Linked DNA regions of Homo sapiens. The protein of the gene in region 3 purifies or fractionates together with the protein of the main gene of each other region. This does not show direct contact. Each region holds a gene or a part of one and is shown on either strand. Other genes may lie near its edges. The genes, in order: TIA1, RCVRN, CXXC4, PUS7 and ZNFX1.

What was found.
Region 1: the proteins of CXXC4 (region 3) and TIA1 purify together in Homo sapiens (affinity purification with mass spectrometry, with the first as the bait; one large-scale study listed by BioGRID). This does not show direct contact.
Region 2: the proteins of CXXC4 (region 3) and RCVRN purify together in Homo sapiens (affinity purification with mass spectrometry, with the first as the bait; one large-scale study listed by BioGRID). This does not show direct contact.
Region 4: the proteins of CXXC4 (region 3) and PUS7 purify together in Homo sapiens (affinity purification with mass spectrometry, with the first as the bait; one large-scale study listed by BioGRID). This does not show direct contact.
Region 5: the proteins of CXXC4 (region 3) and ZNFX1 purify together in Homo sapiens (affinity purification with mass spectrometry, with the first as the bait; one large-scale study listed by BioGRID). This does not show direct contact.

What each region holds. Positions count from the first base shown.
Region 1 is NC_000002.12:70,223,517-70,229,581, forward strand, and holds part of TIA1 (cytotoxic granule associated RNA binding protein TIA1), read right to left. Parts: intron 5,803-6,065; coding exon 5,748-5,802; intron 5,686-5,747; exon of another isoform or gene 5,576-5,685; coding exon 5,543-5,575; exon of another isoform or gene 4,947-5,542; coding exon of another isoform or gene 4,828-4,946; exon of another isoform or gene 4,307-4,827; coding exon 4,219-4,306; exon of another isoform or gene 1,878-4,218; coding exon of another isoform or gene 1,841-1,877; exon of another isoform or gene 1,212-1,840; coding exon of another isoform or gene 1,114-1,211; coding exon 1,038-1,113; coding exon of another isoform or gene 996-1,037; exon of another isoform or gene 908-995; intron 1-907. UniProt on the Homo sapiens protein: RNA-binding protein involved in the regulation of alternative pre-RNA splicing and mRNA translation by binding to uridine-rich (U-rich) RNA sequences.
Region 2 is NC_000017.11:9,894,834-9,900,624, reverse strand, and holds the end of RCVRN (recoverin), read left to right. Parts: intron 1-2,420; coding exon 2,421-2,530; 3' UTR 2,531-4,305; downstream 4,306-5,791. UniProt on the Homo sapiens protein: Acts as a calcium sensor and regulates phototransduction of cone and rod photoreceptor cells. Modulates light sensitivity of cone photoreceptor in dark and dim conditions.
Region 3 is NC_000004.12:104,473,021-104,479,085, forward strand, and holds part of CXXC4 (CXXC-type zinc finger protein 4), read right to left. Parts: intron 1-6,065.
Region 4 is NC_000007.14:105,513,996-105,520,060, forward strand, and holds part of PUS7 (pseudouridylate synthase 7 homolog), read right to left. Parts: intron 1-6,065. UniProt on the Homo sapiens protein: Pseudouridylate synthase that catalyzes pseudouridylation of RNAs.
Region 5 is NC_000020.11:49,249,791-49,255,855, forward strand, and holds part of ZNFX1 (NFX1-type zinc finger-containing protein 1), read right to left. Parts: coding exon 6,018-6,065; intron 4,860-6,017; coding exon 4,705-4,859; intron 4,022-4,704; coding exon 3,876-4,021; intron 3,041-3,875; coding exon 2,930-3,040; intron 1,833-2,929; coding exon 1,737-1,832; intron 1-1,736.

The DNA.
Region 1 (6,065 bases), on a different chromosome or scaffold from region 3:
ATTTAAGTGATCCTCCCGCCTCAGCCCTGCAAGTAGCTGGGACTACAGGCATGTGTCGCCATGCCTGGCTAATTTTTTGTAGAGATGGGGTTTTGCCATGTTGTCCAGGTTGGTCTTGAACTCCTGACCTCAAGTGATCCGCCCACCTTGGCATCCCAAAGTGCTGGGATTACAGGTGTGAGCCACTGGGCTCGGCTGAATTTTCGGAATTCCCGGAAAAAAAAAAATTAAAAAAAAAGTAAAATAAAAAATATATATATTTTGTAGAGATAGGGTCCCACTATATTGCCAGTATTTATCTCAAACTTCTCAGCCTCCCAAAGTGCTGAGGTTATAGGCATAAACCACTGTGCCCGGGTAATATTTAATTTTTTAAAAAGTTCCTATCCATCACAGTATTTTTATTTATTTATTTATTTTTTGAGACAGGGTCTCACTCTGTCGCCCAGGCTGTGCTGTGGCATGATCTCGGCTCACTGCAACCTGTGCCTCCTGGGTTCAAGTGATCCTCCTGCCTCAGCTTCCCGAGTAGCTGGGACTACAGGCGCCTGCCACCACGCCCGGATAATTTTTGTATTTTTAGTAGAAACAGGGTTTCACCAGGTTGACCTGGCTGTTCTCAAAGTCCTGACCTCAGGTGATCCACCCGCCTCAGCCTCCCAAAGTGTTGGGATTACAGGTGTGAGCCACTGCGTCCGGCCTCCTCACAGTATTTTATTAGCTACTTTTAAACTACCATGGGAATATAAACTAGGGAGATAATGAATTAAATCCATAAATGAGATTTTCAACATCTACCTTTGGCTGATAATTTAAACAACTTTACTTTCTACATTCTGAAAACATCTTATCAGTACTCTGCATGCCTCAGGTGCCAATAAATGTTAAACAGACAAAACAGAAGAAATCTTCTAGTGAGGGTTTATTTTAATCATCAGTAAAATAAACAGCAGACGAAAAAAAGATTAGTAATTAAAACGGAGTGTTTCCATTCTTTACTCTTTAAGCATTATCCATGCACTTCTCACTGAGCTCACCCATTTGTTGAAAAAGGAGACAAAGCCATATCCCTTAGACTTTCCTGTTGCCATGTCTTTTACCACTCGGGCATCTCTGAAATCAGAAACAATCAGAAGTTTAGGTTTGCAAACTATCCTCTGGATATCAAATAAGAATTTCACACACAACTCATTCTCATGTTTCACCTTCATTAAAGTGAACCTTTAATGCAAATTCACCTTTTATTCTACAAAATTTATCATGTATTAGGAAATGAGGCTTAATTTTATAGACATGCAAATCAATAACTTAAGTATATATGTATATTTATATTGTACAGAAATTGCCTCTCTCTTCAAAAAACTTTTTAAACTTTTAAATATTAAGCATGGTGAAAGCAGCTACTCACATGAACTACTTAACCACTTATAAAGTTCACAGGACATTAGATGAATGGCTTTCTTTAACCATGCAATTTATAACTTATTTGACACTATATTCTACCTAATCATTAAAAAAAAATAGAAAACTGGAAACCAAAAGAATGAAAAAGTTGTATATTCCCTAAACTAATTAAACTATTTAATTTTTTCAGATCAATTTATACCCCCCTTTTTGTCTAAATTTTGAGAACTTGACATTTTCAGAAATGTTAAATCATTGAAGAAAAATACTAGACACACACAAGTTTTAAGCTAGACAAGAAAAGATTTTACACTGAATTTTATAATAGCATTCATATAAAATTGATTGGAACTACAAGATATAAAAGCAAAATTTTAAAAAGTCAGAAAGTAAAAAAGCACGCCAACATTTATCCACTGTGAACCGTAGCTTGTAGTTAGCCAGGGCAATTCTGTCCATTCTTCAGAGACACTCTGCAAAATAACCAGAGCCCTATTATTTGAGATTGAGTAAAAACCCAGCCATGATAGCTAAAACTCCATACCTCAAAAAATTGGACTCAAATTGTGCTTCACAGGCAATCTGCTTTTAAGTTAGTCAGGTATGTCACAATGCTTGCTCTCTCAGGACACATGAACAAAACAGGCACTTTTATAACAAAAACCCAAGTCAGAAAGCCATGCAATGTAATTTTCTATTAAAGTATACATAAGCATATTTTAGATCAATCTGAGTGATTTATTAAGTGTTCAGGGTCAAAATGACAAAGACGTGGTGGTGAAAAGGGAAAATTAATGTAAGTCAATGTTCAATATGCAAAAATACTTAATAAATTATCTGTATGGTACGCATGCATTTAATCTGGTAGCTGACTCTCTTCTACGCTGTAATTTGTTAGTCTACCCTAAACTCAAGGAATAGGAAGAGTTTATAGGCTGTATATAAGGGAAAATACCATATTTTTTATACTACATGCTTTTACAGACCACTGTTTATTACACATCTATAAATCAAGCACTGATATTTGCACTTTTTAGAGAATATCATGAGAACCCTTCAACATACAGTTATCAACTTATCTCCTTTAACAACAACAAAAAATCAGGAAAATATGCTACTGACTGCCAAATGATTCCTTTAAATGCAGGAAAGCTAATTCCTTATATAGCCTAAAACTCAAACATTATACATTATCTCAATTGAAAATCATAAAACTTAAAGGTCTTACCAAGAAAAAAAAAGTATACACCAATAATCATGGGACCATAAGAAAATCTACAGACTAAAAATATGACACAGAAATATATTTAAGAGAAAAAAATATAACCCACGATTTGTAAATCATGAAATTGCTAAAATCTGAAGGTCACTTAACTTAAACTCACCAACTGTTAAACAATCTTTGCCTAATTCCAAACTAAAATTCCCGTGTTTTCAAAAAAACTACCTCAATTAAAATCAAAGCATTTAATAAAATAGCTACTTAATCTGTTCACAATGTTAGAAAATTTTTTCTTCTTAAAGTTTCAGAAAATGTTAGTCTTGAAAAATATTCAACTCATTTATTTCTCTCTGAAAAGATTCTCTGAAGCAGCAGCAAAGATCTAGATCAGGCTTCTTTATCCTTTTATGGTTCTATGACTACTCTGACAATAGGATAAAATTTACAAAGATTTTCCACACCAAAATGAAAACACAAAATTGTGCATAGAGATTTAGAGCCCTTGAGAGGCCAAAGGCTAAGACTGTCTAAGTCCAGATATTCGAAAGCAAGCTAATTATTATTGAAACTCTAAGATATTATTAAGAAGGACAATCAAGAAATGAAAGCTGTACTTATTTTCCTGATCAGGTCTCACAAAGAAAAATGTCATCTGAAAGAAGTCCATTTATAAGCCCTAATTCTGTGACCACCTTTAAAGTTGGTAATTCCTTGGTCACATCCCCTAATCAAGGAACGATAACTCTTCAAACGAAAGCTCCTAAAATTCACCAATACTACTGGCATTTACTTTCCAGTCTCCTCATCTCATCTCTGCTGTTGGTCTGTTCAAACCAAACCACAGCTAGCACTTCCTTTTTACTATTCTTCTAGGTGGAAAAATAACAGAGCAAGCAGAAACCCTGAAGAAGTTTTCTAAGCTAATTACTCTACAGAAAGTACTGTAAACAACTTGTTATTCTTACTCTAATATGGCATGCTTTTCAAAATTTTAAAGTTCTTCTATGATGAATGCTATCTCAAGTAAGGTATTTATTCATAAGGGCCTAAAATGTATGACTAATAACAAGTGCAAGCAAGGCAGTGCTTCATAAAATATTATTAAGGCACTATTATTGTTAGCAGTTTTTTTAAAAGGGTGTAAATATCTAGAAAATAATATTCAATAACTGCTTTTTAAGTTGAATTGTTAAGGTTTCTTTTTGTTAAAATATATTAACACAAAATGCATGGTATCATAGAAGTACCCAACAGATCTAAATTCCTTAGTTACAGCACAATTTTACTAAAGATTGTCACCAAGCTAGCTTGATACCTATATAAGAAAGTAAAACATGTACAATGGCAAATTTGTCTCTTAAGAGCTATGCTAATTGAAAAAGGATTTTAAGATAATTGAAAACCAAAGGTTTATTCATCAATGGGAAAACAATCTTTTGCTGTTAACTTCTTGAATGATCTCTAAACAATGTAATACATTATATTCAAGTTATAAAATTAATGTACAAAATTCACAACAGAATTATTTTCAAGTTATGTCTACATATAATTGTTTCTAATTAAAAGGATTTTATTTATCTTCTGTTACTTACGATATTCTTCCAAATGGTGCAAAAGCAGCTTTTATATCTTCAGTTGTAATTTCTGGGCTGAGATCACCAACAAAGACATGGAAATGATCTTATAAGGGGAAGGAAGGGGAAGTGAAAAGAAAAATAGAACTTTAGAATTTAAAAAGTACTAAAATCTATCCAATAAAGTATTCTTAAAATGATTATGGCTTATGATAAAGTATAAATAAAACACTATCCTATATCTATACAAATCCTACCAATTTTAAACAATGAATCAAGGTAACAATATAGGAAAAATTCTCCTGAAACGACTGTGATACATCTAACTGTAAAGTGACATTTATATTTCTATTTACAGTCAATTATTACACTGGTCTAAGAAAATAAACTAATAACATACAAGTTTCAGTTCTGCAAAAAAATTTAATGACTTAGTTACCATTCTAATAATAATTATTTACTTTTATTCAGTTTACCACTATATTAAGGCTTTACAAATTAAAATAAAATAGTGGTACTGTGAATTATGTAGACTAGATTTGCCTCAGTTAACACAATTTACTGAAGCTAGCTACATGATATATACTTGGTTTAACCATATTTTGTGAAGAACAATCAAAGAAATACCTTGCATTGCAACAGTTTGATGTTAAAGTATTTGACAGTTTTCTCAAAAGCCAACAGTTTTGGTTGCCCAGACATTACACCATTCAGTTTATGTGAATCCATGTGCAAGTGAACTAAGACTGAAGGCAACAGAATGAAAACAGTAATCCCTTCACTTTATATCAGAACCATTAAAAAAGCATTGGAGAGAAATAACCAACCCATATCTGAAGTTTTTAAAAAAGACAATTATCAAAAAAAGAAACACTTTAAAAATGCAAAATTGTTGGACCAACACTTTAAAATGGACACATACATCAATTTGACAAAGCATATTTGGAAAGAAAAGTTACCCATATTTGACAGGCCTTAAACAACATTTTGGATTGCTCTTTGGGAAACAAAATTTGAGGAGCAACTCAAGCATTTGGAAGATCTGGGTATGAAGCCCAAATGGTGACCTCAAGAAAGGAGGGTATTTTGCCCCTTAGTTGGTGAAAGTAGTTCTAAGGCATCAGCTGCTACCAAACGGGTCAGAAAGCTTGAACTAGCACCAAAGTAGCGGACAAGTTATACTTGGTCAACACTGAGAAGGGAGAAAAGTATTGCTAGAGAGACAAATAGAAATAATATCTCCTCCCGCCCCCCTCCCCCAAATATCAAACAAAAAAACTTCAGGTGGTTAGTGAATACCCTTTCAAGAGATTTCATTTTATGTTTAAGAAGATACAATTACCTTGTGAACGCTGTGTGCTGACAACGGTACTACCTGATGACAAAGATTAGATTTGTTCTTAAATTTATTAACACAAACACATTCAATCATATCTTAGGATAACGATCAAAACATTACTGCAAACATGTATGATGTTTATAGGCTTTACAATAAAACTACTGGGTACAATAAAAACAAATGTTCAAAGAGCATAAAATATACTTACTGCTTGTATCTTTCTTTTGACTGCTAGGGGTTGTTGCCCAATTCACTTTGACTTCCTAAAAAAAAAAAATTTCTACATTTATACTTCACAAAAATAAAGCCCAAAATCACATTTGTATCTATAAACACATAGGAAGATATCTGTTTAAGATGAAACACTGAAGGAGATACCAGCTCTGGTCAAGTTTCAACACTTAATCTTCTGACCTACATTTAGGCAAATAATGTTGACAAATCCTAATCTTTATGTGTCTGTTATCATTCAATTAACCTTTCCTACCTAAAGTACCCATATTATTTTTTTTCCTTTCATTCTTTT
Region 2 (5,791 bases), on a different chromosome or scaffold from region 3:
ATTTATGGGAGGAAAGGCTGAAGAAGGAAAACAGGCTGGGATCGAGAGGAGGCTGGGAAAGCTATCAGACTGCCAAGCAGATCTGACCCCTGGCAGGGAGAGAGGGAAAGAAAGGAAGGTTAGGAAAGAAAGGAAGGTTAGGAAAGAAAGGAAGATTAGGTAAGTAATGCCCGAGACTGCAGTGCAGTCTGAGGAAGTGTTGACAGAGTCGATGGGGTGTCCTCAGTGCCCCTGTCAGTCTTGGTGCCCCTGCCCTGTCAGTCAGTGGCTGGAAGCAGCCCCCAGGAAGTGTGATCCTGCACTGTAGGCAGTGATGGACTCCAGCACTCGGCTGCTGGGGCTGTGTGTCTGTGATGCTTACGGCCAGCACAAGGATGCGGTAAAGGAGCTGGTATTAGGCTGGGGCTGCAAACACATATGGCTGGAGGGGCAGGAATGATGAAAACGAGTTATGTGGACAGTCATCTACAAGCAGTGGGGATTGGCAAACAGCAGAGGGTGCACCTCTGGTCTGATGGCTTCCAGCATATTCCATGTGGGGCTATGGAACCCGTGGTTGAGACATCATCTGATTTTTTTTTAAGAGAAGCCAGCCATGAAGACTTTAAAAATCCAGTGTGTCTCAACTGATAAAACACAGCATGGCCCAAACACATCCAAGGGTCCTGTATTAACCCCTTTGGTGACCTCTGGAGGCAGTCTTCTGCCAAGGTTCAAGAAGAAAAAGCTGAGCAGGATGCTAAATAAGGGCAGAGAGAGATGACCCTGCTCCTCCTAATCTGCCAACAAATGATGAAATAAGAGAAGCATGAAGGTCATTGGGGTAGGAGGAACATAGGACACAGAATTTAAGGAGGCGCTCGTTCTCAGGGGTCAACAATGCACTCACAGGACCTGAAAGTGAGCGCCTCCTTAAATTCGCGCCTTGGTACTTTACCCACCTTTCCCTCATCGGCCCGGATTGGCCCCTCACCTTTGAGCACTCTCTCCTCCTTGCACAGACACTGGCTACCAAGATGCCTTCTTTTGGCACTTTGCCCCACTGGCTCCTTAACTGGCTTCGCGACCTCCCTCTGGGTCCGTTCATGTGTCGAGCCCTGTGTTCTGCTTTTTGCTCATCTGAAAACCTCCCTGGTGAACATCCCGGGAGGGGATGACGTCAGAAGCCCCGAGGTCGACGTGTTACTCCTGTTCGTGATGTGTTGTACGTGTTTCCACGCGGCCCATCTGGAGACAATGCCTCAGGGCAGAGTCAGGCTTTGATGGTGGGAGTTTCAAGCTCTCTGTGAGCTCTCTGTGGGGTGGCTGGGATGTTAAAACCCAAATTTTACCACCCAGACTTGCGGAGGAAGCCATCCTGGATCCTAACCCAGAAGGGATTAAAGGTATCCAAAAGGCCCAGAGCATAAGTCAGAAATCACATTCAGTTCAGCAAAGCTTTGTTGAGCACCGACTCTGTGCTAGGCACTGTGAACATACAACAGAAAGGAGCATCTGTCTCATGCTAGAGGTATTTCTGCGTGTGACTGCCTTCCCCGCCAGGTCAACAGTTTCCCAGGGAGGGACTTCATCTCACTCTCTTCTATTGTACACCCCGCCTCCGCTCCCTGTGGTGGCCTTGGCTCCAAGCACAGTGGCATCTGGGCTCAGGACCATGCATTTAACTGGACTGATCTGAATACAGTTAGCCACCTGATTAAAAACACCGGAAAACCAGGTGTGGGCGCAACAAGGCTGTCTCTCAGTCCTGATCCCAAATAAGGAGGCAGATGAGACTGGGGGACGCAGGGATGGATGCATAGGAAGGGATCATGGCGGAGTTGTCAGCCAGGAATCATGGGGCTGCCTGTGTGCTGCAGGTGCCAAAGAGACCTCTCTGCAAGCCACACTCCCCCTGGCATGATCTCATTGGGCCCTTCACTTCTCACTCCTATTTCTGGAGGGATGTTGTTCCCTGCTTCTCAGCTGAGACTCTGGGCCTGACATCCAGATTGTTTTGCTATGCTCAGACCCCCAGAAGCTCCTCCTGAACTTGATCCTTGAAACTTGAGCTACTATAGAAAATAGAATAACAATTAATAGTTATTAATTATTGAAGTATTTAATAACCAGCAAGGCAGGGGCACCGGCCAATCGGAAGAGACACATAGCACAAGACTGGCATCTTGGGGGCCCCCCCAGTGCCAGTCATTCACCGCTCTTTGCTGGTCTGCAGGGAGCTCCAAGGGTCATGGGAAAGGAGGTGGGTATCTGGACTGGGGTGGGGGAATATTGAATACTCAGGGCCACTGAGTATTCAATATTCTTATAATAGATACATTCACACTGGGGATACTGGCTAGATGTCAGCCTCATCGCAGCTCACTTGGCTATCAATCCTGACTGTTTTATGTACGTATATATTTTTTCCCAATGCACAGATAAACTTACAGAGAAAGAATTCATTGAGGGGACACTGGCCAATAAGGAAATTCTGCGACTGATCCAGTTTGAGCCTCAAAAAGTGAAGGAAAAGATGAAGAACGCCTGATGCCAACTGTTCAGCTGTCCTCCCTCCACCTACCACTCACATGACACCCGTGAGCGCCTGTGCACACACACACACATGCACACACACGCGCGCGCACACACACACACACACATCCACCCCAGGGCCAAGAGAAAGGCCTGCACACAAGCCCACAGCACAGCTCCCTGCCAAACTGAAGCATCTGTAGTGACCCACTGGTTCCTTCTTCCTGGGTCTTCAGCATTCCCTCCCATCATGCCCGGTCCCACCCCTCCCTCTGTCCACCAGCCCATGGCCCTGTGCTAATCCCAGGATTAGGCCATAGGAGTCCTAAGTGTCACCCCGCTGTAAGCTCCTTTGTGGAGTGCTGGGTAAGCAGTTTCCAATAAACGCAAGCTGAGCTGGGCACGTGGCTGCTGGTCATCCTTCAACTGGAAAAGGAAATGATTTCTATCAGTCACACCTCAAAGACAAGGCTGTGTTGCGATGGCAGCCCTAGGCTGGGCTGCTTTGGTGCGGAATGAGTCTAATGCGGTCCTGCTGTCATGGAGCTCATGGTCCAGAGGGGACAATGAACCTGGAAGGAGCCATGACCAGTGGCCCAGGTTACCATGGAAACGTGCAGAGCACCAGGGGAGGACACAGTGGAAGGGGCTGACTTGTCAGGGGGGATCAGGGACCACATCCCTGACGAAGGGAGATTTAAATTCAGAACCACTGCACACGAGGCGGGGGACGGGGTCGGGGTGGGGAAGTCTCAAACAGAAGGCGGCCAACACAGAGCCGCTGAGGCATGAATGACCATCTCGAGTTCCAGGAGAAGGTCGGGGTGGCTGGAGGGTAGAAGGAGGAGGGAGAGCAAAGTGTGAGCTGAATCTAAAAGGTAGGCGGGGGCTGGACCACGCAAAGCCCTCCCTGCAGCCTGTGGTAAGCACTTGGGGGCTCACCATGGGGACAGCGGTGCCACTGTGGAGTTGGAAGTAGGAGGGGTTTATGTTTGTAAGAGAAGTCCCCAGCAGGCTAAAATAAGTCAGAGAGGAGCAACTGGGGGCTCCCTGGAGTCAGGGAGCCCGATGAATAAGCTTTTGCAGCCACTCAGATGGCCTGGGCCAGGGGAAAGGCAATGGGATGGAGAGGACCAGATCCAGTGAGGACACATTTAGGAGGTAGCATCCACCTGGCTGGCTGAGGGGGCAGGAGGAGAGAGGGCAGGAATGGCAGCCAGGCCTGTAGCTTGGGCAGTGGGTGAATAGCAATGCCATCTATGGAGATGAGAAATACAGAGAGTCTTTGGGGTTTCAGGGAACAATGATGAATTCAGCTTCAATATAGTATGAGGTGAAGGCAGAGCCATAGATGGCCCTAAAGCCCCTTGTTTTAGAGACAAGGAAAAGGAGTCCCAATGACAGGAAGCAGCTTGCCCAAGGGCAGCCAGCTGATGAGCAGAGGTCAGGCAAGGGCTACCCACCGGCCCCCAACTGCCTCCTCAAAGCTCCAGGGCCTGGGATACCCAGGAACTCCATCAGTGCATTCTCCAAGATCCCTGGATTTGTTGCTTTGAAGGCCCATTTATTCTCCAGCCTCAAGTTCCAAGATGAGGTCAGAAAAATGCATGGATACCCTGGATTCTTGACTGACCTGTCTGCAACCTCTTGAGGCTGAGGAGTCTCTAGTTGCTGGTATTGTGGTGATGCCTCCAGACCCCACTTTAGCCACAGAGATGACACAATCACCACTGCCAAAGAGCACTCCTCTGTGTGGAGAGCAAACGTGAGAATAAACACTTATGAACCGTGCACCATGCTAGACTCTGCCATCATTATTTCATTGATGGAGATGTTATTATCTGCACAATACAGATGAGGATACTGAGGGCAGGAAGTGTGAGTAGGAGTTGGTACTTAAACTGGAGTCCCTTTGATTACACCAGATTTCTCCAATAGTTTTGACCTGGACACAGCAGGATAGAGAACTCTAGGATTGCACAATGTCAGAGATGGAAAGGGGAAGGAGGCTACAAGGCATGAGTCCAGAGGTTCTGGGAGGAGAAGGATTATTACTAGAATCATCTACCCAAGGCATTCTCCCATGTAGACATAGTGGGCTATATAGAAGCCAGTTCAGTGGGAGATAAAAGACTCTGTGGGTCCAGTCCAGAGTGTTCTAGGAATATAACCAAAGGGCTCAATGCTCTTTCCACCACACTCCATGAATGAATCTGGTTGCTTCGAGGATGAGGCTGGGGGCTTTTCACTTCTCTCTGAGGTCAGTCTATCATTGTCACTTGAGTCTAAAAGGACAGACACTGCATAATTAGGTCCTTGCTGGTTTGTGGTTCAATGGGAGAGCCAAAGAGTGAAAACCTAATTAGTGCCTCTTTTTTTAGCTTAGGGTGGAAGGACCACTTGGGCTGAGATTCTCTACAGCTGTATGACACTTTGTGGAAAATAAAGCATGAAGTTCAACTTGGCCACAGGGAAGAGGAGGTGGAGATAGTGATGAGCTATGTCATCAAGACTCTTCCAGATGCAAAAGGTAGATGACCTGGCACAAATTATTGTGGCACAAATAGAAATTGCTTGGCTCTTATAGCTGAAATTCTAGGAGTAGGGCTAGCTTCAGGTATGGCTTAATCCAGGGGCTCCAACAATGTCCCAGAGTTCATTTCTCCCTCTCCTGGTTCTGGTTTCTGCTGTCACCACCATTCTCAGACAGGTTCTTCCCATGCTGGCAGGACGGTCACCAGCAGATCCAGGCTGCCTTCTTCATGGTTCCAATTTCAGCAGAAAAGAGAAAATGCTTTCTCTTAAGAGTCCCAGCCAAAGTGTCAGGATTGCATCTCACTGTCTCTGGTTAGTTATATGCCCATGCCTGACTCAATATCTGATGCCAGAAGGATGTACTGCTCTGCTTGGCCAGCAGATTTTTATGCCCATCCTTGAACTGAGGATAGAGTCAGGACAACTCAAGTTCCGTGGACTGACAGTAGGAGATGAGTGGTTTTTCCAAGAGGAAAATTGGGGTACTATAAGAAGGGCAGATTCTAAAAATAGATGTCTACTATAGAGACCTTGGGGAAGTCATTTCCTGTCTCTAGATCCCTGACTCCTCAAGTACATGTAAATTCAAGGGCAGAAATGGGTCTCATTAAGAGCAATAATCCAAACTGCCTGAGCTTCTGTTGCCACCTGCCCACATAAGATCCCAGCCCCTTGTGCAGTGTCTCTTGGGCATTTTTAGCATCTCCAGGAGGTGTCCCACACAGATTCACCCATAGATCCC
Region 3 (6,065 bases):
TGAAATTTAGGTCACTGTTTTATGTATAGAAATCACAATATATATATATATACATATCCAATTATGTAAAGCTGATGTTCAAAATTCAGTTAAGTAATTTATTCTGCAGATTTTCTGACAGAATAATAACAAATATCAATATTACCTGCAACACTTATCATTAAATTCTAAACACATTTTATAGTCTAGTGAGAACCATACTCATAAAATATATCACTGTTTCAAAGTGAGTTTGTATTTTCAACAAATATATATATAAAGTAAATTGATTACTAACCAATGATATTCAATGAAGCATAACTACCCTATTGAATTGTAAACATACTATAAATGGTTTCTCCAAAGAAGTATCAAGCTAGCACCAAAGTATAAGCAATCATTTTAACAAAAAGCTTATAGTTACTATGAGGTTTTCTTGTTAGGTAAATGGTAGTTAAGCTTGAATTTTCTATGTACATTAACATCTAATAATTCCTCATGCCATATCCTTCCTTAAAATGTATTCTAATGATATACATAAAACAATCACATGAATATACAGTGAAGGTATGCAAGAAACAACAAGCTAAGAATACATTCTCCTGCAAAAGAAAGTTGACTTTATTCCTTAGACTAGCCCAACAAGCCTGTATAAATCGTAAGATGGCTGCTAAGGATAAATAAGTATATAAATTGATGTGTTGAATGTAAGTGCCAATATATTTACTAGGTAAACAAAAACACAAGAGCACATACATACACACACATTACTTGTAATGCATCTTAAAACATTAATAGCACTTGATTTTTGGATTTCAGAAAATAAACACAAAATTCTGCTAAAAACCCTCTAATAATTGAGGTTAGCTCTTATTTACTTTCTCACACGTGTTATTTGGTGGACATTGTCCTATTGTAATTATGTCATCTAATAATAAAAGTATTAATTGATTAGGATGTCAACTAGAAAACAATAAAATAAATATTTTGGAAAGCAAACATGCTTTTCGCTATCTGTACTAAAATAATTTTTTAAAAGACTGTCCTCATCACAAACACAATAAATTTCAAAATGACTGTGTTGAGAACAAATCATTGATAAATGACTATCTTCCTACTCCAAGTCTGCATATAGGTATACAGAACAAAATCTGCCTGAGCAGCGCTTTCTAAAAGCACAAACAAAAAAGTTCACTATTCTCATGGAAATTGTACTGATCTTATTAACCTGTTATAAGATGGTTTCATTGGTTTTCTCCTTTCCAGCTCACTATGCATACCTGAATCTCTATCATTTGATTTAATTGGTGAGAAAAACTTCTTTACTACTTTCTAAAATTAACTTTTGGATAAATGTAATAATTATACACATTGATTACATTAATTTAATCATTATTAAGAAGCTACATGACGTAATAAGAAATAGAACATGCCCATTCTAATATTCATGCTTTATACACACACAAAAGCAATAAATGAAAACTTAAAAGTTTATACCAGATGCTAACTTACTGGCTGATGCCAACTAAGAATAAATTTTATATAAGTATGCACACTTATATAAATGTAGTCACTTCTAACGAGATAAGTTAGATCCAAGCATATTCATGCAATTATAGATCTATGGTTACAGATTCACATACGAAAAATAAACATGTGCATATATATTCATATATATTCACATTTATGTGTATATGTATGACACAGAGATGCCAACTTACTCTCAGATGCCAACTGGAAACAAGATTATAAATATATACTTATGTAATCTTGTATCTTGATAAACATATATGTTTACGAAGATAAACAGCAAAAATATATGGAGTACATTTTTTAAATGAGATGAAGTCCTTATGTCTTAGATATACTTTTAAATCTCTTTTCCAATTCTCGCTCTTCCTGTGCCCCTTTCAGCTACTCAATTTTATTTGCAACATTTAGAAAAAGCAAGCTTATAAAATGCCACTTAGTGTCAAAGGTCATTGTTGTGGGAAAAAAAGATAATCACTTCTCAATACCTGTTAGCAGTACAAATTAATTAAACAATGCAAACACGAGAAAAGCAGAAAAAAGGTTTTCTACACTTACTTGATATTACTGTGCATCGTGATTTTACTATGCATACATTGAGACCAGTATGCATCCCCAGATGTAAGAATATGGACAGTTTATTGCAGGAGAAGTGAGAAGGTAAGCAGGGAAGCCTCTTTTAAAAATTATTTCTTCCTTATATTAAGATCCTTGAGGTCAAGAAGCCTAAAAATGATTAGTTGGGAAATCACCAAATAAAATATGTGAGAAAAATTAGGAAAACTACTGGTGCAGTAATTAGAAAATAATCAAGGCACACACCAGAAATTTGTATTTCAGGATTTTAAAAGTGTCAAAACTCTTTAGGGTCCTGTAGCCTACCCAAAATAGATGTATATCTAATCTCCTGCCCAATTTTCATCAGGAACAATGGAAATGTACTTTAGGACTGATTGAGTTTGTTTCAGCCAAGCTGGGTGAAGCAACAATGTTTTAATAGATAAAATATTGAGTTAAACTACAGGTTTCTAACTAAGTTTGTACTAATTTGAGGACACATATTTTTTCATTCTGTCAACTAATGAGGTTATCCTTGTAAGAAGACTTCTTTTTAAATGGTGCGGGGGCTCAGCACACCAATGTGCGGGATTAAATACCCTGACCAGCCACCTTTGGGTTGTATAAATTCAAAGTCCCAGCTAGGGATTCACACTCTTGATGAGATTACAGTGACTTTCTGGATCTCAGTGATGCTTGCAGGGGATCTTTATCCTGAGTGACAGGAAAGCCAGATTCCCCTGAAGAGAAGGGGGTGGGGAGGTAAAGAATAGAATTGAGTTGATCGGCATTGTTTAAGGCAGCCTTCACTGTTCATGCAGGTGCAAACGCTGACAAACAGCCGTCTTGCTCCCAGGAGGCCTGTGGAGAAACCTGCAGCCCCAGTTCTCTTTCTGGTACTGCTGTAAAGCACAGTGTTCCAGAGAATTCACCCCTACACAAACCAGGTACAACACTATCTTCAAGTCTAAAGGAGTCTTCTGTTTCTCCCTAAATTACATTAAAACTAAGGGAATTTCCTTGAATAAAAGAATGATAAAACCTAAGTCCAAGTACATTTTATATTTACTTTTTAAAAAAATTTAAAATTTAATAATGTTCCTGGCAGATATATATATATTTCAGTTTGATTTTCATTAAATCTGCAGTGATGAAATAATTAAACAACCTAAAATAATAAAGAATATGAAAAGCTTTCACCTTAAGGATTTTAGCATGTTTCTCTTCTCATACCTGCGAAGCAGTCACACGGAAAGTGGTATCTTCAGGTGAAGAATGCATCTACATATTCTTGTTAGAAATACGTCAAGTCTAATAAAACATCAGCTCCTAAAAGCTGAAAATGGGGCATCTCTAACTCTGTACATATGAGGATATGTGGATTGGCCATTCATATCTAAGTACAGTGTGTAAAATGTAGCAATATTTACAAAACTGCACTTAAAACTTTTAATAATATTAGACCTGAGGTTTCAAAGAGGAAATTAATGAAAACTTTTGATGCTGAAATTCACCTTAAATACAATTTTAAATTGAGATCATGATTATGATACTAGAAATGTCTATAACTAAAGTTAAACCTATCTTTCCAATATTTATTCATATACTTTCGAATCTAAAAATTTCAGTGACTCACCTAGGCCTTCAAAATTCTACTGTGAAACAAAATGGCTCTCATGATTTCCAACTGAAGGTCACTATTTGGGGATACCATTATTTCTATACTAATCAAAAATAATTTCCTGTTTTCCCATTTATTATTAAAGAAACAAAAGTCATGAAATCATTTTATGATTCCCATATAATCGTGAAGCATGCTTTCTTCCCAACCAAACTTAAGGCAATTTCAGGCTGTAGTTAGCCAATACCACCTACTGTATAACCTTTTGAAATATTGTTTTCACTATGAGGAGTCCCACTGTAAGTTTCTTAGACTCCTCGGCATCTAAGGCCTTGATACTGGAAACCTCCACTGCATTCAAGTCTATCATTTCACACTAGAATGCAAAGATCTTAATGAATCACTGAAAATTTGCAGTAGAAAGTAAGTGAATAAATATGACAAAACATAATAATGGACCCCACTGTTTGCCTTCAGTTATTCAATTATATAGATTTTGTTTGTGGCTACATATAAAACTTTCAAACTTTAGAAATTTCCGGATTAACAAATGCAAGCAGGTTGCTGATGGTGAAAAAAACTACCTTTTTTTTCTGATTTGATTCACGAAGAATGCTAAAACATTGTTATATAGGTTCTTGATTATGTTACTAACAAAATTTCAAAATCTACTTGGAGAAATTGGAAACTGTATTACGTATACAGTATTGTGAATGTGAACAAACTGATTGACACAAATTAATACATAGTAATATGAATCTTTGAATAATTAATAATTATGATATAAAATAATACCTAGCAAAGGTGAACACCTCCCCCACAAGTTTTTAGCAGAAAGATTTTTCTATATTCCTTTTGTAAATGATAGGTTTTAGAAATCATAGTCTAGTAACTATAATAGAGTTATTAGAAAACACTAGTAAAGTATAGGCTAATAATATAAGAGAACTATTAATGATTATCACACAGTCCAATAATTTATTGCTATTATAAACAAAACATTTTATTAATAATATCTAAATTTAAAAATATTTGGAGTAATATAAGTATATACTTGTTTCCATTTTTTAAATTACACCTCACTTTTTTCTTCTGCTCTGTTGTAATAAATCCATATTATGTCTGTAATGTATAGCAGATTAATTTTTCTAATAATCCAGATTCATTTATTACATAACTGTATGTCTTTGGTATAATCACACCTTATTTTGGTCTTTATCCAAATATAAATTAAAAACAACTTTCAACATCATCCACTAACTGGAATATTAGACCCCTATTTAAAAAGGGGAAAGCACCAAATAACTAGGTAATTTTTATGACATAACTTTTGGAGGCTTTAAATATGATTTTAAGAAACATTCCATATTTTGGTTTCCAAATTGACATTTGTGACCAAGATTTCTCCGATTAATGATGGAGAACTAGAGATGGCCTTTTCATTGATAATTGATTCTCCCTTGGCTGTTGCTCCTGTTGCTCTCTTTGCCTTGCACTCCTACACTGCAACCACCACAGTTACCATCACCACTGTGACAGCATGATTTTAGACTGTGACGGTGTGACTTTAGAAGGTAAACCTAGCTAACTTCTGCAAATGGAAAGATGACTTTATACATTATGTTGTAAAGGCACTAAGTCAAGTCCATATGGTGATAAAGCCTGTCATGAAAACAGCTGTCCAAAGGAGAATGTGTGTACACGGTGGGAGTGGGTTGGTGGGAGGTAAAATGACAGATTAACACCACGATTCACACTGGTCCAGAAGTGACCAAAAAATGTACCCATTTTGGCCATAGGTCTAATATAACTACTTTAGTTAAGCAAGTCTCTTGATAATGCTATGCGTATATAATTATATTTCAGTTAAATTTCGTAAAAATACTTCAAACCACACCATTCTAACAAATAAGTAAATTTAGTGTATTATAAGTGGGTATTTTAGTGGTTAAAATGTTCTTACCCATATAAAAATAAAACATAGTACGGTGGTACCATGGTAAGCAGAAAGAGGAAAATCTTTCAATAATTCACAAATTTAAAAGGTATTTATCAAAGCAATGTTATATACTTAACCTTATGTGTAAGAGAGAATGTGAAAGAAAATTAGAAGTAAAATTAAGATTTAAAAAGTAAAAATTGGGTTAATAAAATCAATACTATACTTTCAAGAATGATTGAAATTATTTTATTTATATAGTCATATGTTCATATTTCATTTGCATGTATATATATGTATAAATATATATGGTTATAGACTCTAAATAAATATGTGTGTGTATATATATATGAATATATATGTGTGTATAAAAGTTCAACAATTCAACTTCTTCTCAAGTAATTCCCATTGAATGCAACAGCATAGCATTAGGTGAGT
Region 4 (6,065 bases), on a different chromosome or scaffold from region 3:
AAGGCAGGCCGGATCACGAAGTCAGGAGATCGAAACCAACCTGGCTAACATGGTGAAACCCCGTCTCTACTAAAAAATACAAAAAATTAGCCGGGTGTGGTGGCAGGTGCCTGTAGTCCCAGCTACTCGGGAGGCTGAGGCAGGAGAATGGCGTGAACCCAGGAGGCGGAGCTTGCGGTGAGCCGAGATTGTGCCACTGCACTCCAGCCTGGGTGACAGAGCAAGACTCCGTCTCAAAAAAAAAAAAAAATAGTTATTATGGATGATTTACATAGCTGAACTGTATTGTTGTTATGTCTGGAGGAGTTTAAAAAAAGAAAAAAAGCTGGCTGGGCACAGTGGCTCATGCCTGTAATCCCAGCACTTTGGGAGGCCAAGGCAGGTGGATCACAAGGTCAAGAGACCGAGACCATCCTGTCCAACACAGTGAAACCCCATCTCTACTAAAAATACAAACAATTAGCTGGGCGTGGTGACGGGCGCCTGTAGTCCCAGCTACTCAGGAGGCTGAGGCAGGAGAATGGCGTGAACCCGGGAGGCCGAGCTTGCAGTGAGCCGAGATCGCGCCACTGTACTCCAGCCTGGGTGACAGAGCGAGACTCCATCTCAAAAAAAAGAAAAGAAAAGAAAAGAAAAGAAAACAGAATCTAAAAGCTGTTGGAATCCCCAAAACACTTTTTAAGCCTTGAGAGAGATGTGACTATGATCTGAGTCACATATGGTTACAATTTGTTTTTCAGATTACAGATTAGCTTACTTTCATTTTTCCTGTTCCATATAATAACTAAAAATTCTCTCTCATTTTTTTTTTTTTGAGACGGAGTCTCGCTTTGTGCCCCAGGCTGGAGAGCAGTGGCGCAATCTCGGCTCACTGCAAGCTCCGCCTCCTGGGCTCACGCCATTCTCCTGCCTCAGCCTCCTCCCGAGTAGCTGGGACTACAGGCGCCCGCCACCACGCCTAGCTAATTTTTTGTATTTTTAGTTGAGACTGGGTTACACTGTGTCAGCCAGGATGGTCTCGATCTCCTGACCTCGTGATCTGCCCGCCTTGGCCTCCCAAAGTGCTGGGATTACAGGCGTGAGCCACCGCGCCTGGCCTACAATGACTAAAAATTCTTAATTAATGACCCTTGTTAGAGAGGAACTTTCCCTTTGGTGTCCTGCTTATGCTTAAACCGTATGACAGAAAACCCATAACTATTACACCTTCCCCAATGTACTCTCCCCAAAAAGAAACACTGCCTATAACCAATCAAATTGCTGTAACTATGTGAAAACCCTGTACGAAAAATGTTGTAATCCTGCTAAAAACTCCTGTCTCTGCCTATATAAAACCTAAACTTCCCTACTTCAGAACTTTGACTCCATTTTTTTAGAACTGGTGTTTCCAGGTGGGACATCCTCAAACTTTGCACTTGAATAATTTCTCTTTGTACTAGATTCTGACGTTTTTGATTATTTTAGGTTGACAACAGGCCTTTAGGTTGCCAGTCTTTTTCTTGATATTTGTGGACATTTGTCTGATCTCTTTTTCTTGATATATCTAACTGAAAAGACAAGAATAAACTAAACTCACTTTTAAATTTCAAATGAAATTACATTTTTCATTGTTTAAGTCAATGGCCCTATCATAGACAAATTAATTTTTTTTTGACACAGAGTCTTGCTGTCACCCAGGCTGGAGTGCAGTGGCACAATCTCGGCTCACTGCAACCTCCAACTCCTGAGTTCAAGCAATTCTCACGCCTCAGCCTCCTGAGTAGCTGGGCCCGACTAAGTTTTGTATTTTATTTTATTTTATTTATTTATTTATTTATTTATTTATTTATTTTGAGACAGAGTCTCACTCTGTTGCCCAGGCTGGAGTGCAGTGGCATGTTCTTGGCTCACTGCAACCTCTGCTTCCTGGGTTCAAACGATTCTCCTGCCTCAGCCTCCTGAGTAGCTGGGATTACAGGCGCGTGCCACCAAGCCCAGCTAATTTTTTGTATTTTTACTAGAGACGGGGTTTCACCATGTTGGTCAGGCTGGTCTCAAACTCCTGACCTGGTGATCCGCCCACCTCAAACTTGTAAAGTGCTGGGATTACAGGCGTGAGCCACCACGCCTGGCCTAATTTTAGTATTTTTAGTAGATACCAGGTTTTACCAGGTTGGCCAGGCTGGTCTGAAACTCCTGGCCTCAAGTGATCCACCCACATTGGCCTCCCAAAGTGCTGGGATTACAGGCATGAGCCACCGCACCCGGCCCAAATTAATTATTAAAGTATATATAGTACCAATGATTTTTAAATCACTTAATATATATTTTTCTAAGTTCTGTCCTATAGGCCTAAAAGCGGAGAGCATATTTACTAGAAGAACTGTTCAGAGCTCTGGACTAGGAAAGGCAAAACTCAAACTAGTGTCATTTTCGCAAGCAGGAACTACGTGAAAGGGAAGCTGAAATGGAATTTTTTTTTTTTTGAGACGGAGTTTTGCTCTTGTTGCCCAGGCTGGAGTGCAATGGCGTGATCTTGGCTGATCTCGGCTCACAGCAACCTCCACCTCCCGGGTTCAAGTGATTCTCCTGCCTCAGCTTCCTGAGTAGCTGGAATTACAGACGCCCGCTACCACGCCCAGCTAATTTTTGTGTTTTTAGTAGAGACGGAGTTTCACCATGTTGGTCAGGCTGGTCTCGAACTCCTGATCTCAGGTGATCCATCCACCTCGACCTCCCAAAGTTCCTGGGATTACAGGCGTGAGCCAGTGCGCCCGGACTGGAATATAATTTTTAAATTGAGGGTTGGGGAGAGGAGAGAGAGGTGATCTTATGAACATAGAAGAGGCCTGAGAGAATTAAATTGCAAAGAGAAAACAAGCCTGACTACCCCAAGGTGAGAGGCCCAAGGAAATCAGTTTTGCAGTCAGGAAAGCCCAAGCATTCTATCTTGAATGAAGATATAAAGTTACTAGATGTGAAAAGGGGGGAGAGGGCAGTTTTATGCATTTTTTGACATATTTAAAAGAAAAAATTTTAAGAAAACATGCTGCACAAATACACTATCCATGATAGTAATGATGGTATCTTAATTGTCAAGTAAAACCCCATAGACCAGAAGCCTGATGTTAAACCAGGAAGAGAATGAACTCCTCTGATACTTTCCCCAAAACTTAAAATCCTTCACATTTCTTTTTTTGGCGATGGAGTCTTACCCTGTTACCCAGGCTGGAGTACAGTGGTGTGATCTCTGCTCACTGCAACCTCCACCTCCTGGGTTCAAGTGATCCTCCCGCCTCAGCCTCCCAAGTAGCTGAGAGTACATACAGGCATGCGCCAACACGCCTGGCTAATTTTTGTATTTTTAGTAGAGACGGGTTTTCACCATGTTGGCCAGGCTGGTCTTGAACTCCTGACCTCAGGTGATCTGCCTGCCTCGGCCTCCCAAAGTGCTGGGATCACAGGCATGAGCCACCACGCCTGGCCAATCCTTCACATTTCTTTGGAGGGAATGCTAAAATAATGTTTTTTGTTTCCTCTGCACTCCAAATGAGACAACTGAGAATAGAAATATTATAATTTTAACAGTATTTTAAAACCCTTTTCATTAAAATACTAGATTCACCAACTAAGCTTTAAGAAGTACTCTTAGCTGGGCATGTGTGCATGTAGTCCCAGCTAACAGGGCGGCTGAGGCAGGAGGATTGTGTGAGACCAGTTTAAGGCTGCAGTAAGTTATGATCACACCACTGCACTCCAGTCTGGGCAACAGAGGGAGACTTCATCTCTGAAAAAATGCAGGCAGGTAGATGGCTTGAGACCAGGAGTTTGAGACCAGCATGGACAACATAGTGGGACCATGTCTCTGCAAAAAATTAAAAAATTAGCCAGGCAGCTGGGTGTGGTGTCTCATGCCTGTAATCCCAGCACTTTCGGAGTCCGAGGTGGGCAGATCACAAGGTCAAAAGTTCGAAATCAGCCTGGCCAGCATGGCGAAACCCCATTTCTACTAAAAATCCAAAAATTAGCCATGCATGGTGGTGTGGCCCTGTAATCCCAGCTACTCAGGAGGCTGAGACAGGAGAATCGCTTGAACTGGGGAGACAGAAGTCGCAGTGAGCCGAGATTGCGCCACTGCACTCCAGCCTGGGTGACAGAGGGAGACTCTGTCTCAAAAAATAAATAAAAATAAGCCGGGCAAGGTGGCATGCACCTGTAGTCCCAGCTACTTGTGAGGCTGAGGTGGGAAGATCCACTGCGCCCAGGACGTTGAGGCTGCAGTAAGCCGTGATGGTGCCACTACACTTCAGCCTGGGTGACAGAAAGACCCTGTCTCAAAAAAAAAATAAAATCCTTTACACCTATAACAAAAATTAAGTTTAGCATTTTCAAAATTTTAATATAACACTAACAACAGTCTCTTGTTTGTTTATTTATTTATTTTTTGAGACAGTGTCTCACTCTGTCACCCAGGCTGGAGTGCAGTGGCGTGATCTCAGTTCAATGCAGCCTCGACCTCCCAGCTCAAGCGATCCTCCCACTTCAGCCACCCGAGTAACTGGGACTACAGGCATGTGCCACCATGCCCAGTTAATTTTTGTATTTTTTGTAGAGACAGGGTTTTGCCATGTTGCCCACTAGTCTCAAACTCCTGAGCTCAAGTGATCTGCCCTGCCTCAACTGGGATTACAGGTGTGCACCACCGCCCAGGCCAAACAGTCCCTTATTAATTAATTCCTCCAAAATAAACATCAGAAAAACAGCCATTAGTCTTTTTTTGAATTATTTTTTATTTTATTTTGTATATTTTTTGAGACGGAGTCTCACTCTATTGCCCAGGCTGGAGTGCAGTGGCGCAATCTCGGCTCACTGCAACCTCTGCCTCCCGGGTACACGAGATTCTCCTGCCTCAGCCTCCTGAGTAGCTGGGATTACAGGCGCCCGCCACAACACCAGGCTAATTTTTTGTATTTTTAATAGAGATGGGCTTTCACCGTGTTATCCAAGATTGTCTCGAACTCCTGACCTCATGATTCGCCCGCCTCGGTCTCCCAAAGGGCTGGGATTACAGGCCTGAGCCACCGCGCCCAGCCTACAAAAACAGCCATTAGTCTTAATTCTATCATATTATATTTCAAAACTATCCACAACTTTCACTTTGTAAATACATCTTTCCTCCATCCCCTGCAAATTATCAGTAATCTCTATAGCTCTCACAATAGTGAGCATTTTCTTTAGGGCCAGAGCACAGAGAACACACTAATTTTTTTTTTTTTGGAGATGGAGTTTTCCTCTGTTGCCCAGGCTGGAGTGCAGTGGTGCAGTCTCGGCTCACCGCAATCTCCACTTCCAGCGTTCCGGCGATTCTCCTACCTCAGCCTCCCGAGTAGCTGGGATTACAGGCATGGGCTAAAATTACCACATCCAGCTAATTTTTGTATTTTTAGTAGAGAGGGGGTTTCGCCATGTTGGCCAGGATGGTCTCAAACTACTGACCTGACCTCAAACGAGCTGCCTGCCTCGGCCTCCCAGAGTGCTGGGATTACAGGCATGATGTCACCAGGCCCGGCAGACACACTGCATTCTAATATGCAAAATCATTAAGTCTATGAGGGTCATTCATTCTGCAAATATTTACTGAGCAAGTGTCCTATGTGTCTGGCATTGTTGTAGGTACTGGAAGAAAAGGGTAATACCATTTCCTGTCCTCATGTAGCTTACAATGTATTTGAGAATATATCTGAGAACAAAATAAATCTCAGGACATGCGAGCTCCAAAGAATTAAAACAGGGTAAGGGGCTGAGAGTAAGAGGGGTGTTCTTCAGTGATGCCTCGTCTAAGGAGGAGACTTCTGAGCAAAGACAAGGAAGAACCAGACAGGAAAAGATGTGTGTGAGGAGAGCTCCAGGCAGCCCGAACAGCACGTGTAAAGGACCTGAAACCGGAGCAAACTTAGTCGACAGTATGACCAGCTGGATTGTTCTCTCTCTCTCCTAGGTAAGGAAAAACGCTGCTTCATTAATACAGTACATGCATGCCCCTGCCTCTATCAAAAGACACGTTCAAGGCCGGGTGTGATGGCACA
Region 5 (6,065 bases), on a different chromosome or scaffold from region 3:
CCACTTACTCTGCTCCAGAGAGAGACCTTGGAAAGCTTTTTGTCCACTCAACATCACTATCTTTAGTTCTTTAGTTAGTCATTGTGTGCTTCATTTTGGGGCCACAGCAAGTTATGAAAATAAAAGATTATGTCTCTTTCAGTTTTCAAGATACTTGTTTGATGTTAATATTTAAAAAAGCTGGCTGGGTACAGTGGCTCACGTCTGTAATCCCAGCACTTTGAGAGGCCGAGGTGGGTGGATCACCTGAGGTCAGGAGTTTGAGACCAGCCTGGCCCACATGGTGAAACCCCGTCTCTACTAAAAATACAAAAATTAGCTGGGCGTGGTAGTGGGCGCCTATAATCCCAGCTATTCAGGAGGCTGAGATGGGAGAATAGTTTGAACCCAGGATGCAGAGATTGCAGTGAGCCGAGATCATGCCACTGCACTCCAGCCTGGGTGACAGACAGAGTGAGACTCCATCTCAAAAAAAATAGAAAATAAAACAGCCATCCACAATCCAACCATTATAGCTGAAAGAACAAGCAGTGCTGTGAGGAGGATGATGATAATGACAGAGCAGCTAACTTACTGAGCACTCCACTGTGCTGACTGCTTTATATACATTACCTCCTTCCATACAGTAATGGGATATGGCAGGAGCCATTATTCTTATTGTCCAGAAGAACCTGATACTCAGAATTTATTTATTTATTTTAAAAAAAGAGACAGTCTTGCTATGTGCCCCAGCCTGGTTTTGAACTCTTGGCCTCAGCTGACAATTTTTTTTTTTTGAGACAGAGTTCACTCTTGTTGCGTAGGCTGAAGTACAGTGGCACGGTCTTGTTGGCTCACCACAACCTCCACTTCCCAGGTTCAAGCGATCCTCTCGCCTCAGCCTCCCAAGTAGCTGGGATTACAGGCGCCCACCACCATGCCCAGTTAATTTTTGTATTTTTAGTAGAGACGGGGTTTCACCATGTTGGCCAGGCTAGTCTCCAACTCCTGACCTCAGGTGATCCACCCATCTTGGCCTCCGAAAGTGCTGAGATTATAGGCATGAGCCACCACACCCAGCCAGGCACATGCCACCGCACCCAGCTAATTTTTGTATTTTTAGTAGAGATGGGATTTCACCATGTTGGCCAGGATGGTCTTGATCCCTTGACCTTGTGATTCGCCCGCCTCGGCCTCACAAAGCTCTGGGATTACAGGCGTAAGCCACCGCGCCTGGCCAGAATTCTTATATAACTTGCTTAAGGTTACATGGCTAACAGGCAGAATTGGGATTAAAAAACCCTGGTCTGTATTTCAATTTTCTCCCAGTAACCAGCTTTTAAAAAGCTGGCTCTACTCCCTTCTGAAGGCTTTCTTTTTTTTTTTGACAGGGAGTCTCTCTCCGCTGCCCAGCCTGGAGTGCAGTAGCATGGCACGATCTCAGCTCACTGCAACCTCCACCTCCTGGGTTCAAGCAATTCTCCCACCTCAGCCTTCTGAGTAGCTGGGATTACAGGTGCTTGCCACCATGCTCAGCTAGTTTTTGTATTTTAGTAGAGACAGGGTTTCACCATGTTAGTTAGGCTGGTCTCGAACTCTGACCTCAAGTGATCTGCCCACCTCAGCTTCCCAAAGTGCTGGGATTACAGGTGTGAGCCACCGCGCCTGGCCGCTGAAAAGCTTTTTTATCTTGAGGAAATTATAGCCTTTTTAGGTTGCTGACACCATCCAAGAAAGATCGGGTAAGACAGACTCACCTTAATCTTCTCATACTTAAGAACAGATGGATGATTCTCCAGATCCTGGTAAATGTGGGGGGTCAAAAGGCGGGCAATTTCAGGGCACATACGGTGCTGAAAAAACACATGCATGTCATTAGAAACATGGGCAGAGCACACACGGACAATTTCTTTAAAGATAAGGTTGCTGTTAGAAAATTTAGGGAGGGCCAGTTGTGATGGCTTGTATCTGTAATCCCATCACTTTGGGAAGCCAAGGCAGGAGGATCACTTCAGGTCAGGATTTCAAGACCAGCCTGGCAACATAGTGAGCCCTCATCTCTATTTTTCTTTCTTTTTTTTTTTTTTTTGAGACGTGTCACCAAGGCTGGGGTGCAGTGGCGCAATCTCAGCTCATTGCAACCTCTGCCTCCCAGGTTCTAGTGATTCTCCTGCCTCAGCCTTCCAAAAGTAGCTGGGACTACAGGCATGAGGCACCACGCCTGGCTAATTTTTTGTATTTTTAGCAGAGACAGTGTTTCGCCATGTTGGCGAGGCTGGTCACGAGCTCCTGAACTCAAGGGATCCGCCCGCCTTGGCCTCCCAAAGTGCTAGGATTAAGGTGTGAGCCACCACACCTGGCCTCTATTTTTCTTTTCTTTTTTTTTTTTCTGAGACAGAATCTAGCTCTATTGCCAGGCTGGAGTACAGTGGCATGATCTCGGCTCACTGCAACCACCGCCTCCCAGGTTCAAGCAATTCTCCTGCCTCAGCCTCCTGAGTAGCTGGGATTACAGGTGCCCACCACCATGCCCGGCTAATTTTTGCATTTTTAGTAGAGACAGGCTTTCACCATGTTGGCCAGGCTGGTCTCGAACTCCTGACCTCAGGTGATCTGCCCACCTTGGCCTCCCAAAGTGCTGGGATTGCAGGTGTGAGCCACCGCACCTGGCCTCTATTTTTCTTAAAAAAAAAAAGGAAAGAAAATCTAGAGAGATAGAGATTATCATTTGAAAAAAATAAGGAGAAAGCATAACATAAACAGCTCCTTTGTCCAACAAAAACTCAACACGGTGATCTTGTGGTGTTTTAAAACAGAAAATGTAAGGTTGACAGAGTCATTTCAGTATTAAATTATTTTTATTTATATGAGACCTCTTTTGCTGGCAACTGGCAGCTTCCCAGGAGCTTTCTCCTGGGCATTTGGTAACAACAGAGGCCCAGCTTCTCACCTGGTAATTCAGACGGACAAAGGGAATGTTTACTTTCACTAGCCGTTCAAAAAGGGACACCTCAAGGTTGAAGTTCTTGGCCAGATCATACACGTTGGCACTGGGGCGCAGCTGAGAAGAGAAACATGGCTGAGGATTCTCTACTGATAAAGTCATTTAACCATCCATACTTCCATCCATCCAACCAACCATCAAATGTTTTTCAAGTGTTGACTATGTGCCAGGCACTATTCTACATACTCACAGTTTAAGGATTAATAATGACAAGGGTTAAGGATTAGTAGAACTAAAGGTGATATGACAGAGTGCCCCATGGTGGGTTTTTTCTAGCTAGGCCTCTGAACAGTGACATCTGAGTAGACACTAGCATGGCAGAAGTTGCCAGTTCTTCAGTCATTTGAAAAGCAAGATCCATAATGGGGAGCGGAAAGGACACAGTGGGACACCAAGAGCAAATGGGATGAAGTCAGAGAAATAAGCTGAAACCTGATCACATAAGCCTTTGTGGGCCACTTTAAGAAGCTTGATTTTTATGCAAGTGCAATGGGACACCACTGGAGGGTTTTCAGCTGGAAAGTGATATTATCTATCTACCTTTTTTTTAAAAAAATTCACTTTGGCTCCTTTATGTAGAGTGCATTAAAAGGTAGCAAAAATGGAAGCAGAGAGACTGAGGAGCATGCTATTACAATACAGTCCACTCAAGAGGCCATGGTGGACTAGGTAAATAGCAGAGGGAATGGATGAAATAAATGACGTTGCCACTAAAATATACCCCAAATCTAATAGCATCTGCTCTTAGACTGAACGTGGGAGGTGAAGACAAGAGGAATCACAAGAAGCTACTAATAAGCTTGAGGACTGTTGAAGCAGAGGCCAGGGTCTTCCTTTATGATCTCACCCCCACGGAGAGCCAGCCCATCTTCTAGGGGGACTCTCGTTTTACCTGCTGGTGGTCCCCAATCAAAATGAGGTGCTGGCAAGCTTTGCTCAATGTGGCAATGGTATGGGCCTCAAGGACTTCCGCAGCTTCTTCCACTATGACAATCCTCGGCTCCACCTTCTGTAGGATCTGGCGGTATTTGGCAGCACCTCAAGTGAGGAAAGAAGAGAAAGGCTCCTCTGAGCTGAGGCACAGGACCCACAGGGCCACTGGGCCTCTGGGAATCCACTTCTGTATCTTCCCTGAACCTGCATCAGCGACAGCTGGTCCTTATAGTGTTCTGGGTGGTCTCCAGAACATTAAAACTGTGTTGGTCACTGTTGGAGTTTCAAACCCAGCAGGAGAAAGTGAGTGAATTTCTTTTTTCTTTTTTTTTTTTTCTTTGAGACAGTCTCACTCTGTCACCCAGGCTGGAGTGCAGTGGTGCGATCTCAGCTGACTGCAACCTCCACCTCCCAGGTTCAAGTGATTCTTGTGCCCCAGCCTCCCGAGTAGCCAGGATTACAGGCACCCACCACTACACCCAGCTAATTTTTGTATTTTTAGTAGAGATGAGATTTCACCATGTTGGCCAGGCTGATTGCAAACTTATGACCTCAGGTGATCCACCTGCCTTGGCCTCCCAAAGTGTTGGGATTATAGGCGTGAGCCACTGCGCCTGGCGAAAGTGAGTGAATTTCACCAAGAGTTCTCAAAATATGGGTGCTTTCAGTAGCTTTTCATGGTATTTTCCTCTAACCTACCAAAGAAGCTCCTCTTTACCTGTCCTTAGATAATCTGGCACCAGAAGTGAACTTAGATGCAACAGGCAAATTTCTCCACAGTTTCTTACCTGTGGTTGTCATTCCTACAACCTGGGCATCTTTAAGAATGTGCAGGTCTTCCTGGAGTCTCAGCTCGGCCATTCTTTCTGCTGATGTGCGGTACTGGCGTTCATAGCTGAGGATCTTCCGGCGGGTGTCAGCCTGGTACAACTGTAGCCAGAGCCTGGAGAATGGGAAGAACCAAGGAAAGAAAGCCACATGCTCTTTGAGAAGGTGGAAGAACGCCCTTCAGTGTGCCCAGTGTATGAAGTGAACCTTGGACCCTTGGAGCATAGTGACAAACAGAGAGATACATTCAGGGACCTAAGAATCCAAAATGCCCAACAAAAAGATGTGCAGAGTAGTCAGGAGCTAAGGAAAGGGGTGAGATAAAGAACAAAGGTTAACTATGGGAAGAAAATAAGAGACTTTAAAAACTTTGGGAAGAATTCTCCCAGCTGCAGCATCCCTGCCTAATTTCCCTCCCCTCCTCTAATTCTCCATAGAGTATTTATTTTATTAGTAAAACTGATGATGTCACTAATCGCTGTAAAACTTTCCAACGGCTTTCTACTACTTTTTTTTTTTTTTTTTTAAAAGACGGAGTCTTGCTCTGTCACCCAGGCTGGAGTGCAATGGCGTGATCTTGGCTCACTACAACCTCCACCTCCGGGTTCAAGCGATTCTCCTGCCTCAGCCTCCCGAGTAGCTGGGATTATAGGCACCGGCCACCACGCCCAGCTAATTTTTTGTGTTTTTAGTAGAGACGGGGTTTCACTGTGTTAGCCAGGATGGTCTCAATCTCCTGACCTTGTGATCCGCCTGTCTCGGCCTCCCGAAGTGCTAGCATTAAAGGCGTGAGCTACTGCGCCCGGCCTCTCCTACTCTTTTTTTTTTTTCCTGTAGAGATGAGGTCTCACTATGTTGCCCAGGCTGGTCTTGAACCCTGGGCCTCAAGAGATCCTCTAGCCTCAGCCTCCCAAAGTGGTGAGATTACAGGTGTGAGTCATTGTGCCTGTTACCTCTCTGTTCTTTTCTGAGTTTTTATACCCATTTGTAACTTTTTATTTGTGGAATTACGTGATTAATTTGTTACCCTGGATAGACTCCATAGGCTCCACGAAGGTAATAATTAATTTGTTACCCTGGATAGACTCTATAAGCTCCATGAAAGTAGAGCAAAGTGTCTATTCTATCCCATGGCTGTATCCCTATCACTCAGCTCAGTGGTGGTGCTCAATCAATAATTAGTTAACATCGTTGAAGGTCTTGGAGGTGGAGAATGTTCTAGGAACAGAAGAGGAACTCCCTACATGGGTTGGCTAGATGTGGAACACAGTACCTATAAAGCTGCCAGCGAGAACTGAGGTCCAGCTGCCAAACATCCTCG